Linked DNA regions of Homo sapiens: region 1 is linked to region 2. The links come from fine-mapping of genetic effects on gene expression. A gene starts in region 2. The other region holds a variant in brackets. All regions are shown on one strand. Distances are between the middles of the regions.

Region 1 (5,358 bases), 32 kb before region 2:
GATCGTTTGCACTGCTCTCTCACACATTAAAGAACTCCTTTGCCTTGTTGTTTCAGGTGCTTTTGAAACATTGTTCAGATAATTATACAGCTCATAAAACAAGAGATTATTGTGGAATTTAAGGATGACTTTGACATTGAATCAGTTGATTGTGCGCATTTTAGAACTAAGTTTGCTAAACGTTTCTTTTTTTTTGTTTTTGTTTTGTTTTGTGTTTGTTATTGTTGTTTTTGAGACAGAGTCTTGCTCTGTCACCCAGGCTGGAGTGCAGTGTTACAATCACAATTCAGTGCAGCCTCAACCTCCTGAACTCAAGTGACTGTCCCATCTCAGCCTCCCAAGTAGCTGGGACTGCAAATGCGTGCCACCACGCCAGGCTAAATTTTGTATTTTTTGTAGAGATAGAGTTTCGCCATATTTGTTTGTCTCAAAACAAACAAACAAACAAACCAAAAAAATATCCCCACCCCAAAAACAAAAACGAACAAAAAGCAAGTGCTCCTTTTTGGTATGGGTCAGTGGTTATCTATTCACCTATCAGTCATTAATTTAACAAATATTTGGGAGTGCCTACCAGGCAGCAGGTACATCACTAAACAAAACGAAGTCCTGACCTCATGGAGCTTATACCCTAGTTGTAGGAAACAGACCATAAACATACTTCAGGATACGTATATATATACAGAGATGGAGTATCCCTCTGTCGCTCCCAGGCTGGAGTGCAGTGGTGCGATCTCGGCTCACTGCAACCTCCACCTCCCAGGTTCAAGCCATTCTGCCACCTCAGTCTCCCAAGTAGCTGGGATTACAGGTGCCTGCCACCACTCCCGGCTAATTTTTGTTTTTGTATTTTTAGTAGAGGCAGGGTTTCACCATGTTGGCCAGGCTGGTCTCAAACTCCTGACCTCAGGTGATCTATCTGCCTCGGCCTCCCAAAGTGCTGGGATTACAGGCGTGAAGCACTGCACCCGGCCAACAAATTGAATTTTAAAGATTGAGTTGGCTTTATTAGGGATTCATGAACTGGCAGCACCCAGTCTACAAAACAGAAAGGAAGCCAGGTGTGATGGTGCGTGCCTGTGGTCCCAGCTACTCTGGAAGCTGAGGAGGGAGGATCGCCTGAGTCCAGGAGGTTGAGGCTGTAGTGAGGTAGGATCGCGCCACTGCACTCCAGCCTGGGTGACAGAGTGAGACCCTGTCTCTAAAAAAAAAAAAAAAAAAAAGACTTCATATGTTGAAGAAGGCAGAGGAAAGCATGAACATGATGAGGTGCTTTCCTTCTATTGATGGCTATTGTGATACCTCATTTCTTATCTTCTTAGTTTAAAAGGATTTAAGGCTGGGTGCAGTGGCTCACACCTGTAATCCCAACACTTTGGGAGGCTGAGGTGGGCGGATCCCTTGAGCTCAGGAGTTTGAGACCAGTCTGGGCAACATGGTGAAAACCCTCTGTCTCTACAAAAAAGTAGCCGGGCGTGGTGGCATGCATCTGGGGTTCCAGCTACTTGGGAGGCTGAGGTGGGAGGATCACTTGACCTTGTGAGGTGGAGGTTGCAGTGAGCCGAAATCACAACACTGCACTCCAGCCTGGGTGACAGAGTAAGACCCCCGTCTCAAAAGAAAAAAAAAATTTAAACAAGAAACACACAGGAGGCCGGGCGCGGTGGCTCACACCTGTAACCCCAGCACTTTGGGAGATTGAGGCGGCAGATCATTTGAGGTAAGGAGTTCGAGACAAGCCTGACCAACATGGTGAAACCTTGTCTCTACTAAAAATACACACAAATTAGCCGGGTATGGTATCACACGCCTGTAGTCCCAGCTACTTGGGAGGCTGAGGCACGAGAATCAGCCTGGGTGACAAGAGTGAGACTCCCTCTCAACAACAACAACAACAAAAAAAAAAAAAAAAAA[AG/G]GAAAAAGAATAAAAGAAACACATGTCAAAGGAAATCCAGCATAGAGTAATTTATTGCAAAAGGAAAATAGTATTTTGAAAGTTAAGTGCAGAGTAGACAGTACACCCTGGGAGAGAGAGAGATAGAGAGAGAGTTAGTTCAGGGAGGGCTGCTCCTAAGGATGAAACAGCAAAGGCTGGCTCTAGAGAGACCCCCTTTGTAAGGGGTCTTACACGATTATTCATAAGGGGGTGGGAGAAGTGTTACTAGTAAGTATGTTCTGGGTGGTCCTCTAGGTGCACATGCGCAGTGGGTGTACAGGCTTGTTCATACATTGCATGTTTCATTAGCATCTTAAATTTCCACCCAGGGGCGTGTTTTTTACCAAGATAATGAGCAAAGGGTCAGTTTGAGGACAGGTGAAATCAAAATGCGCATGCTCCCTACAGGGGAAAGTCCCTACTGGAGAGCGCTCAGCTTGAATGAGCTCAATTACAATGCGAATGCTGGGGCTTACTGTGTTGACTGCGGTCACCACGGTTGCCGCGTCTCCAGGACACGGTCACTTCCTTGACTATCCCCGCCTCGCTTCCACCTGTAGCTTCCTTTTTTTTTTTTTTGAGACAGTCTCACTCTGTGGCCAGCCTGGAGTACAGTGGTGCGATGTCGGCTCACTGCAACCTCCGCCTCCTGGGTTCAAGCGATTCTCCTGTCTCAGCCTCCAGAGTAGCTGGGATTACAGGCGTCTGCCACCACGCCCGGGTAATTTTTTTGTATTTTTAGTCGAGACGGGGTTTCGCCATGTTGGCCAGGCTGGTCTCGAACTCCTGACCTCAGGTGATCCGCCCGCCTCGGCCTCCTAAAGTGCTGGGATTACAGGCGTGAGCCTCCGCGCCCGGCCGGTAAGCTTCCTCTTCTCTGCTCTCATCACCTGTACACGGGTTTTTTCCTCATGTCAACTCTGTGATGGACTGGAATGTTTTCTTCAGATGTGGGTAATTTAAAGGGGGCATTTTTACAAGAAACAAAAAAAACTCGGTTTGTTCGGAGGCAAGTTTTAAATCAGGGTTCATTTTTTAATATTGATGAATCCTTCAATAATTGTATGTTTACTGCTGCCCTTCGCGAGCCAGCCTGAGAAGCGCGGGCTCGACATCCCCGCGCGCCCCCGCCGCCCGCCCCCAAGGCCGGCGACGCTGGAGCACATGTCCTGAGGCCCAGGACCGTGGTCGGCCGCTTTCGCACATTCGTGGCCAGCAGAGGGCGCAGCCGGCCAGCCCCCGCAGCGAAAGATCCCCGAGTGCCGCGTCAGCGATCGCGCTCCTTGCCCTCGCCGCCTGCCAGCCGCCCTGAGTCAGCAAACCACAGAGAGGCGAGGACCTCCCATTTTCCTAGACAGAACAAGTGGGCGTTGGGGGTACGGGTGAGTGGCAAGAACAACCGACCCGGAAGCGAAACGAGGGGGAACTTCCGTTCTTTGTTCTGTCCCCGGTGTGTGGGTCTGTGACAGGGTCCAACAGGGCCTGGTCCGTGTCCGGTCCCCCAAATCTGTCGTCCCTGCCCCCAGGGTGAGTCCACGCGTCCCCGGGTCTCGCGGTGAGACGGAGGCTGTGGTCGCCGGGGAAGGGGGTGGTGTCTGTGCCACTGCGGCCCGCAGGGTCCCCCGGCCGGCCCGGAGCAGGGTTCGGGGAGGCGCCCCTCCGTCCCCTGCAGCCCGTCCTCTACTCCGCTTCCCCAGGGATCCCCCTAGCCTAGCGGGATCCTGCGTAGGGGTTAGTAATGGGGCTCCGGTTCTGGTTTTGTGACTTTAACGGCGACCCAGCTGGAGCGTTTAAAAGTTTCAGCAGAGCGGTAGGGGCGCCTCTCTCTTGAAAGCAGCTAATGACAGCGACCCTAACTTGGTATTTCTCCCAGACGTTTTTATTTGATGTTAACACAGTTATTCGCGCCCGTGGCAGGAGAGGAAGTTTATTTTTACGCAGCTGGGTCCAAGGATCAGAGAAATTCTGCTAAGCGTACGCAGTTAGCACGAGGGCTGGGAGTGGGTGCAGACGCCGATTCCAGGGGTAATCCTGCTGGAGCCCAGTGCATCGCGTGATACACCTGGCTCAGGCTCCGTTTTCAGTTGTATTAGATTCCTGGTTTGATCCTCTCTCCGGAAGTGGGATTGAATCCACATCGGTGTTTACACTCTGAAGGGCTTTTGTAAACTCCAGGAGAAGATAGCAGAGTGATGAACCTGAAACCGATGGGCTAATTAGAGGAACGAGCGTATTATTTTCTCCAGAAAAGACATCTGTGGAGAGTGGGCATCATTTGATTATACGTGTTTGATGGACAGTCGGGTGGAAGGAGAAGATTCTGTTATTGAAGCTCTTTTTTTAAAAAAATTAATTTTTATTTATTTTTGAGACTGTCTCTGGAGTGCAGTGGCGCGATCTCGGCTCACTGCAACCTCCGCCTCCCGGTTCAAGCGCTTCTCCTGCTTCAGCCTCCCGAGTGGTTGGGACTACAGGCGCCCGCCACCACCTCCGGCGAATTTTTTGTATTTTTAGTAGAGACGGGGTTCCGCCCTTTTGGCCAGGCTGGTCTGCAACTCCTGGCCTCAAGTGATCCACCTGCCTTGGCCTCCCAAAGTGTTGGGATTACAGGCGTTAGCCACCGCGCCCGGCCTTTTTTTTTTTTTTCCTTTTAAAATGTTTGTGTGTGTATTAAGGTCTTGCTCTGTTGCCCCCGGCTGGAGTGCCGTGGTGCCATCATGGCTCACCATAGCCTGGAACTCCTGGGCTCAAGTAATCCTCCCACCTCAGCCTCCTAAAGTGCTGGGGTTACAGGCGTGAGCCACTGCAGGTCGCCAGTCATTGAATTTCTGTGATGCACTAGGTCTCTGTGCGGTGAAGGTCCAAGGAGATAGATTTTCAGCGAATCACCTGAAGACTTCTAATGGCTCAGCTGTGCAATGTGGATCCCCTGCTGAAGTAGTTCGGAGCACAGTGTCTAGCAAGTTAGCTGACAGAACGTTAGAACTTTCTTACCCTGGGTGGAGGTGGACCTGAGAACCTACCATTCCCTTTCATCTCTCCACGGGTGCAACGCAAATACTAGTTGTGGTGGTGGTCTTAATTGGTATTTATTAGCATATAATAAGTATTCTCTTTTTTTTCCTTTTCTTTAAATGTCTTGATTAGAAATGAAGTTTAGGCTGGACTCGGTGGCTCATGCCTGTAATCCCAGCACTTTGGGAGGCTGAGGTGGGAGAATCACTTGAGGCCAGGAGATTGAGACCAGCCTGAGCAACACAGTGAGGCTGCATTTCTACAAAAAGAATTTTAAAAAACTCAGCCAGATGTGGCAGTGCACACCTTTAGTCCCAGCTCCTTGGGAGGCTGAGCTGGGAGGATCACTTGAACTTAGGAGTTTGAGTCTGGAGTGAGCTCAAACTCACTGCACTCCAGCCTGAGCA
Region 2 (5,374 bases):
AACTACCCACTTGCCATTACCACCTGGATGTCCAGTAAGACATCTCAACCTTAACATGTCCAAAATGGAATTCCCATCTCTCCCTCAAAAGCTGCTCATCTCAGCTAATGGCAACTCTCATTGTTCTTTTTACTTGGACCGAAAAACCTGGGGTCATCCCGAATCCTCTTTCACTTTTTTTTTTTAATTTAATTTTTTTATTTTTTAGAGACAGTGTCTTAGCCTGTTGCCTAGACTGGAGTGCAGTGGCACAATCACAGCTCACGGAAGTCTTGAACTCCTAGTCTCAAGCCATCTTCTTGCCTTGGTCTCTCAAAGTTCTGGGGTTACAGGCGTGAACCACTTCACTGGGTCTTTATTTTATTGTTTTTCAATTACAGAGGCAGGGTCTCGCTTTGTTGCCCAGGCTGGCGTGTAGTGGTGCCATGACAGCTCACTGCAGCGTTGAACTCCTGGCCTCAAGCGATCCTCTCACCTCAGCCTCCAAAGTAGCCAGGACTACAGGTGTGCATCACCACATCTAGCTAATTAAAAAAAATTTATTTATTGATTTACTTATTTTTGTAGAAACGAAGTCTTGCTTTGTTGCCCAGGCTGAGGCATAACTTGAGCTCAGGAGTTCCGGGCTGCAGAGTTGTGGCTGTACCACTGTGCTCCAGCCTGGGTGACAAAGGAAAACCCTGTCTCTTAAAAAAATAAAGAAGCATGCGGCTAGAAATCAAATGCTTCATTACTAACTCACATTGTCTACAATCACAGTGACTTTTTAAAAGCTATCTAGACTGTTTATCTCAAGAAGTCCATCAAGCAAAAGTTCATGGTCTATCATAAACAGAAGGCCCTTGTTCTGTGTCCATTTTCCCTCCTCCTTTATGCCAATCTCCCACAGCTTATATGCCCTTATGAAAGCGCCCCAAGTCCATTCTGTAACAAGATGAGGCATAAAAAAATCAAATTACCATAGATTCTAAAAGTAGAACAGCACTTACCCACTTGTGCTAAAATGCTTCACACTCAGTCCGTACCTGAAAATCCCTAGGGGGCCCGGCGCCGTGGCTCACACCTGTAATTCCAGCACTTTGGGAGGCCCGAGGCGGGCAGATCACGAGGTCAGGAGATCGAGACCATTCTGGCTAACACGGTGAAACCCCGTCTCTACTAAAAAATACAAAAAATTAGCCAGGCGTTGTGGCGGGCGCCTGTAGTCCCAGCTACTTGGGAGGCTGAGGCAGGAGAATGGCTAGAACCCGGGAGGCGGAGCTTGCAGTGAGCCGAGATCGCGCCACTGCATTCCAACCTAGGCGACAGAGCGAGACTCCATCTCAAAAAAAAAAAAAAAAAAAAAAAAAAAAAGAAAATCCCTAGATCCCTAGGCAGCCAAATTAGATAATTCTTGAGCCACAGAATTCCACTAATTGTTACAAGTTCTTCCTTTTTTTTTTTTTTTTTTTTTTTTTGAGACGTAGTTTCACTCTTGTTTCCCAGGCTGGAGTGCAATGGCGCGATCTCGGCTCACCGCAACCTCTGCCTCCCAGGTTCAAGCGATTCTCCTGCCTCAGCCTCCTTACAGGCATGTGCCACCACGCCCGCCTAATTTTGTATTTGTAGTAGAGACGGGGTTTCTCCATGTTGGTCAGGCTGGTCTCGAACTCCCGACCTCAGGTGATGCACTCGCCTCGGCCTCCCAAAGTGCTGGATTACAGGCATGAGCCACCGCGCCCGGCCACACAAATTCTTTAACCTGAATCAAATTCCGCATCATTTCAAAAATCCTAGGTTAGTCCAAGACCAATACTCACTTTCTCCATAGCAGCCTTCCAACACTTGAAAACAATTATCTTGCCTCTTAATTCTTTTCCTCTCCACAGCTCAACTGTTCCTTAGATTTCGTGGGTTTCCAAGTACCTCACCCATCAAATCAACGTTCTTTTTTTTTGTGAGACCAAGTGTTGCTCTGTCGCCCAGGCTGGAGTGCAGTGGCGTGATCTCGGTTCAGTGCAACCTCCACCTGGTGGGTTCAAGCGATTCTCCTGCCTCAGCCTCCTGAGTAGCTGGGATTACAGGCGCGCTCCACCACACCCAGCTAATTTTTGTATTTTTCGTGGGGACAGGGTTTGGCCAGGCTGGTCTCGAACTCCTGACCTCAAGTGATCCGCCGGCCTCGGCCTCCCGAACTGCTGGGATTACAGGCGTGAGCCACCGCGCCTGGCCCAAATCAACTTTGTCCTGACACTCTTTTATTTATACATGGTTCTTTAAGACTGTTTTTCTAAACCATGAGCAGATCCCTATTCTGTGTGTGTGTTCTAGCCCGAACAAAGCCCGAGGGGACTATTTCTTCCCTTGGATTTGATTCTACCCAACACTTCTAATGAGGTTCGGCTTCCCACAGGTTTCCAACACCTTGGGCGTATTGCCATCAATGAGCCTTGCGTTCGGACCTCCAGTTCAGAGAAAGGGAAAAAAGGCGGCCACGGTCAGACTGATAGACGGCTTGGCTTGGGGAACGCACAAAAAAAACTATTCTGGAACGCGAAAGAACTTCCAAAACATCTGTTCTTCCAGCTTTCATTTGTTAAAGCCCCAAGTGGAAGAAAAGGCTTTCCAGGCAGCCAGCGCCCCCACCAGCTGGTCCTGGGCGGGGACGAGGAGCTCCTCCCCACAGCCCTGCTAGGACCGGTCTAGGTGGGGTCCTCGGAAGCCACAGCTGCTAAACCCACTCCTCCCTCCCCAGACCATTCAGCCACGGCTCCCTCTCCTGTCCGCCTCGCTAACCCGCGACCAGCAGGCTCACCATGAATCAGAGCCGCTCCGGGTACCGGGAGACCGCACCGCGTACCTCGGGACCGCGCACCCGGAAGTGCGTCATAGCCCCGCCCCCGCGGAAAAGTAGTGCGGGGCCGTAGCGGCCCCTCTAGAAATTCGGGAGGTCCTCTCTGTGTCTCTGGCCCTTGGGACATCAGGGAGGAGTTGAGTCCACCCCGAAAATGAAAAGCCAGGGACTCTTTCTGTTTTTACCGAAGACGGTCAGACCAGATGAAGGCTGCGGCGGTTCTCTCACCCAACCCCGACGCCCTGGGGCAGGGAGGGCATGGGCTGAGGCAGCCACCTCGGTCACCCTCGTGGACTTCAGAGCCCAAGGTCCCTGAGTACCCTTGGGATAAGCACAGGGTTCCTTGTCCATAAACCTGGATCGAGGTCACTGGATACCCTTGGGCCCAGCTCCTCGGTCCAGGTTTATGGACATGGAACGCTGTGCTTGGCCCGTGAAGCCAGAGATTGAGTTAATACTTCGTTGATGAAAACAATCAAACTGTAAAATATTTGAAGACATTTATTTTGAGACAAATATGAGTGACCAATGGCCCAAGGTACAGTCTCAAGAGGTCCTAAGAACATGTACCTATGATGGTCGGGCTACAGCTTGGGTTTATACAATTTAGGGAGACATAAGACACCAATCAAGACATGTAAGATGAACATTGGTTCTGTGGGAAAGGCAGGACAATTCCAAGCGGGGATGTTCCAAGTCATAGGTGAACTCAAGGATCTTCTAATGGGCAACTGGCTGAAAGTTATTGTCTAAAGACCTATAATCAATAGAAAGGAATGTCTGGGATGACTAAGGCAGGGGTCCCCAACCCTTGGGGCACAGACAGATACCAGTCCATGGCCTGTTAGGAACTGGGCCGTTACTGCAGGAGGTGAGCTGCAGGAGCAAAGCTTCACCTGTATCTACAGCCACTCCCCATTGCTCTAATTACTGCCTGAGCTCCGCCTCCTGTCAGATCAGCCATAGCATTAGATTCTTACAGGAGCACAAACCCTATTGTGGACAGTGCATGCGAGGGATCTAGGTTGTGCACTCTTTATGAGAATCTAATACCTGATGATCTGTCGCTGTCTCCCATAATTCCCCAATGGAACCCTCTAATTACAGGAAAACAAACTCAGGGCTCCCACTAATTCTATGTTATGATGAGTTGTACAATTATTTCATGATATATTACAATGTAATAATAATAGAAATAAAGTACACAATAAATGTAATGTGCTTGAATCATCCTGAAACCACGAAACCATCCATCCCCCTCCTGCCATCCATGGAAAAAACTGTCTTCCACAAAACTGGTTCCTGGTGCCAAAAAAGGTTGGGGACCGCTGAACTAAGGGGTTGTGGAGACCAGGGTTCCCATTATGCAGATGGAGCCTCCAGGCAGCCGGCTTCAGAAAGAACAGACTGCAAATATTTCTTATCAGACTTTAAAAAGTGCCAGACGCCCAGTTGATTCTCTCCTGGATCAGGAAAAAGGCCTGGAAAGGGAAGGGGATTCTCTACCAAGTGTAGATTTTCCCCACGAGAAGACAGCTTGGTAGGGTTATTTCAAGATATGGCAAAAAAACATATTTGGGGTGGAAATATTTTCGTTTCCTTCTTTATCTGCCATGTGATGTTATGCCAGAGCCTGGTTGAAAAGTCAGCCAGGTTATATAAAGTTAAATAAAACCTGTCTGATGAGGCTTTATGGTTTGAAGGGGGTGACTCTCCAGGCCCCTTAGATAGTAATTTGGGCAAAAGAAGAAAACAGTCAGAGTTTAGTCCTCAACTTTGCAGACCAGGGTCATGGTGACATCAATCAGAAGTAGCCTTGCCCTTCTGTGGGTCCTAAACTTCCTGAGCAGAAGACCTAGGGGCTGAACTCCTTCCAATGCTGCAGGACTCGATGAAGATGTCTTTGCCTGCCTTTTCCTCCTGCTGCTCTGGCTCAGCTGCAGGTTTCCAGACTGAAGAGTCTGTATTTTCCACCTCAGCACTACTCCATCGGGCCCCCTGTGAGTTTGCTTTTGTCTGGTCCTGCAAAACTCACATGTGTTGAGGAACACCAATATGGCTGCCTGCACGTGGAATTCCCTGTCCATACGCGTCATGAATTCATAGATACTCAATATCATTTTTCCCTGACATTTTCCAGGATAATTTAAAAATTTTTTATGTTTAAAGACATGCAAAATTAGAGAAAATGAGCCTCCATGTGCATTCTTTTGTTTCTTTCTTTTTTTTTTTTGAGATGGAGTCTTACTCTGTCGCCAGGCTGGAGTGCAGTGGTGCAATCTAGGCTCACTGCAACCTCCGCCTCCTAGGTTCAAGCGATTCCTCTGCCTCAGCCTCCCGAGTAGCTGGGACTACAGGCGCGCACCACCACGCTCGGGTAATTTTTTATTTTTTTTTGTATTTTAGTAGAGACAGGGTTTCACCATGTTGGCCAGGATGGTCTTGATCTCCTGACCTCATGATCTGCCCGCCTCGCCCTCCCAAAGTGCTGGGATTACAGGTGTGAGCCACCGTGCCCGGCTGTTTCTTTACTTCTCTAAT

Which allele goes with the higher level. Positions count from the first base shown, and alleles are read on the strand shown. Sizes are in standard deviations (SD) of each study's normalised expression.
For the expression in Th1 cells of the gene that starts at base 2,862 in region 2, AG is the high allele of the variant in region 1 and G is the other (large effect, 1.0 SD a copy in Schmiedel 2018).

The links. PIP is the estimated chance that this variant, and not a neighbour inherited with it, causes the effect.
Region 1: its variant is the best candidate, but not a certain one, in a credible set for the expression of ZSCAN21 in Th1 cells (Schmiedel 2018, PIP 0.51).

The regions. Positions count from the first base shown.
Region 1 is chr7:100,079,740-100,085,097 of GRCh38, reverse strand. It overlaps ZNF3 (zinc finger protein 3), which reads left to right and starts at 3,375. Exons shown (of 6, transcript NM_032924.5): 1 at 3,375-3,463. RefSeq lists a silencer at 2,967-3,046 and enhancers at 2,149-3,130, 3,287-3,436. The variant AG/G (reference allele first, on the strand shown) is at 1,915.
Region 2 is chr7:100,047,262-100,052,635 of GRCh38, reverse strand. It overlaps ZSCAN21 (zinc finger and SCAN domain containing 21), which reads right to left and starts at 2,862. Exons shown (of 4, transcript NM_145914.3): 1 at 2,795-2,862. RefSeq lists an enhancer at 2,341-2,960.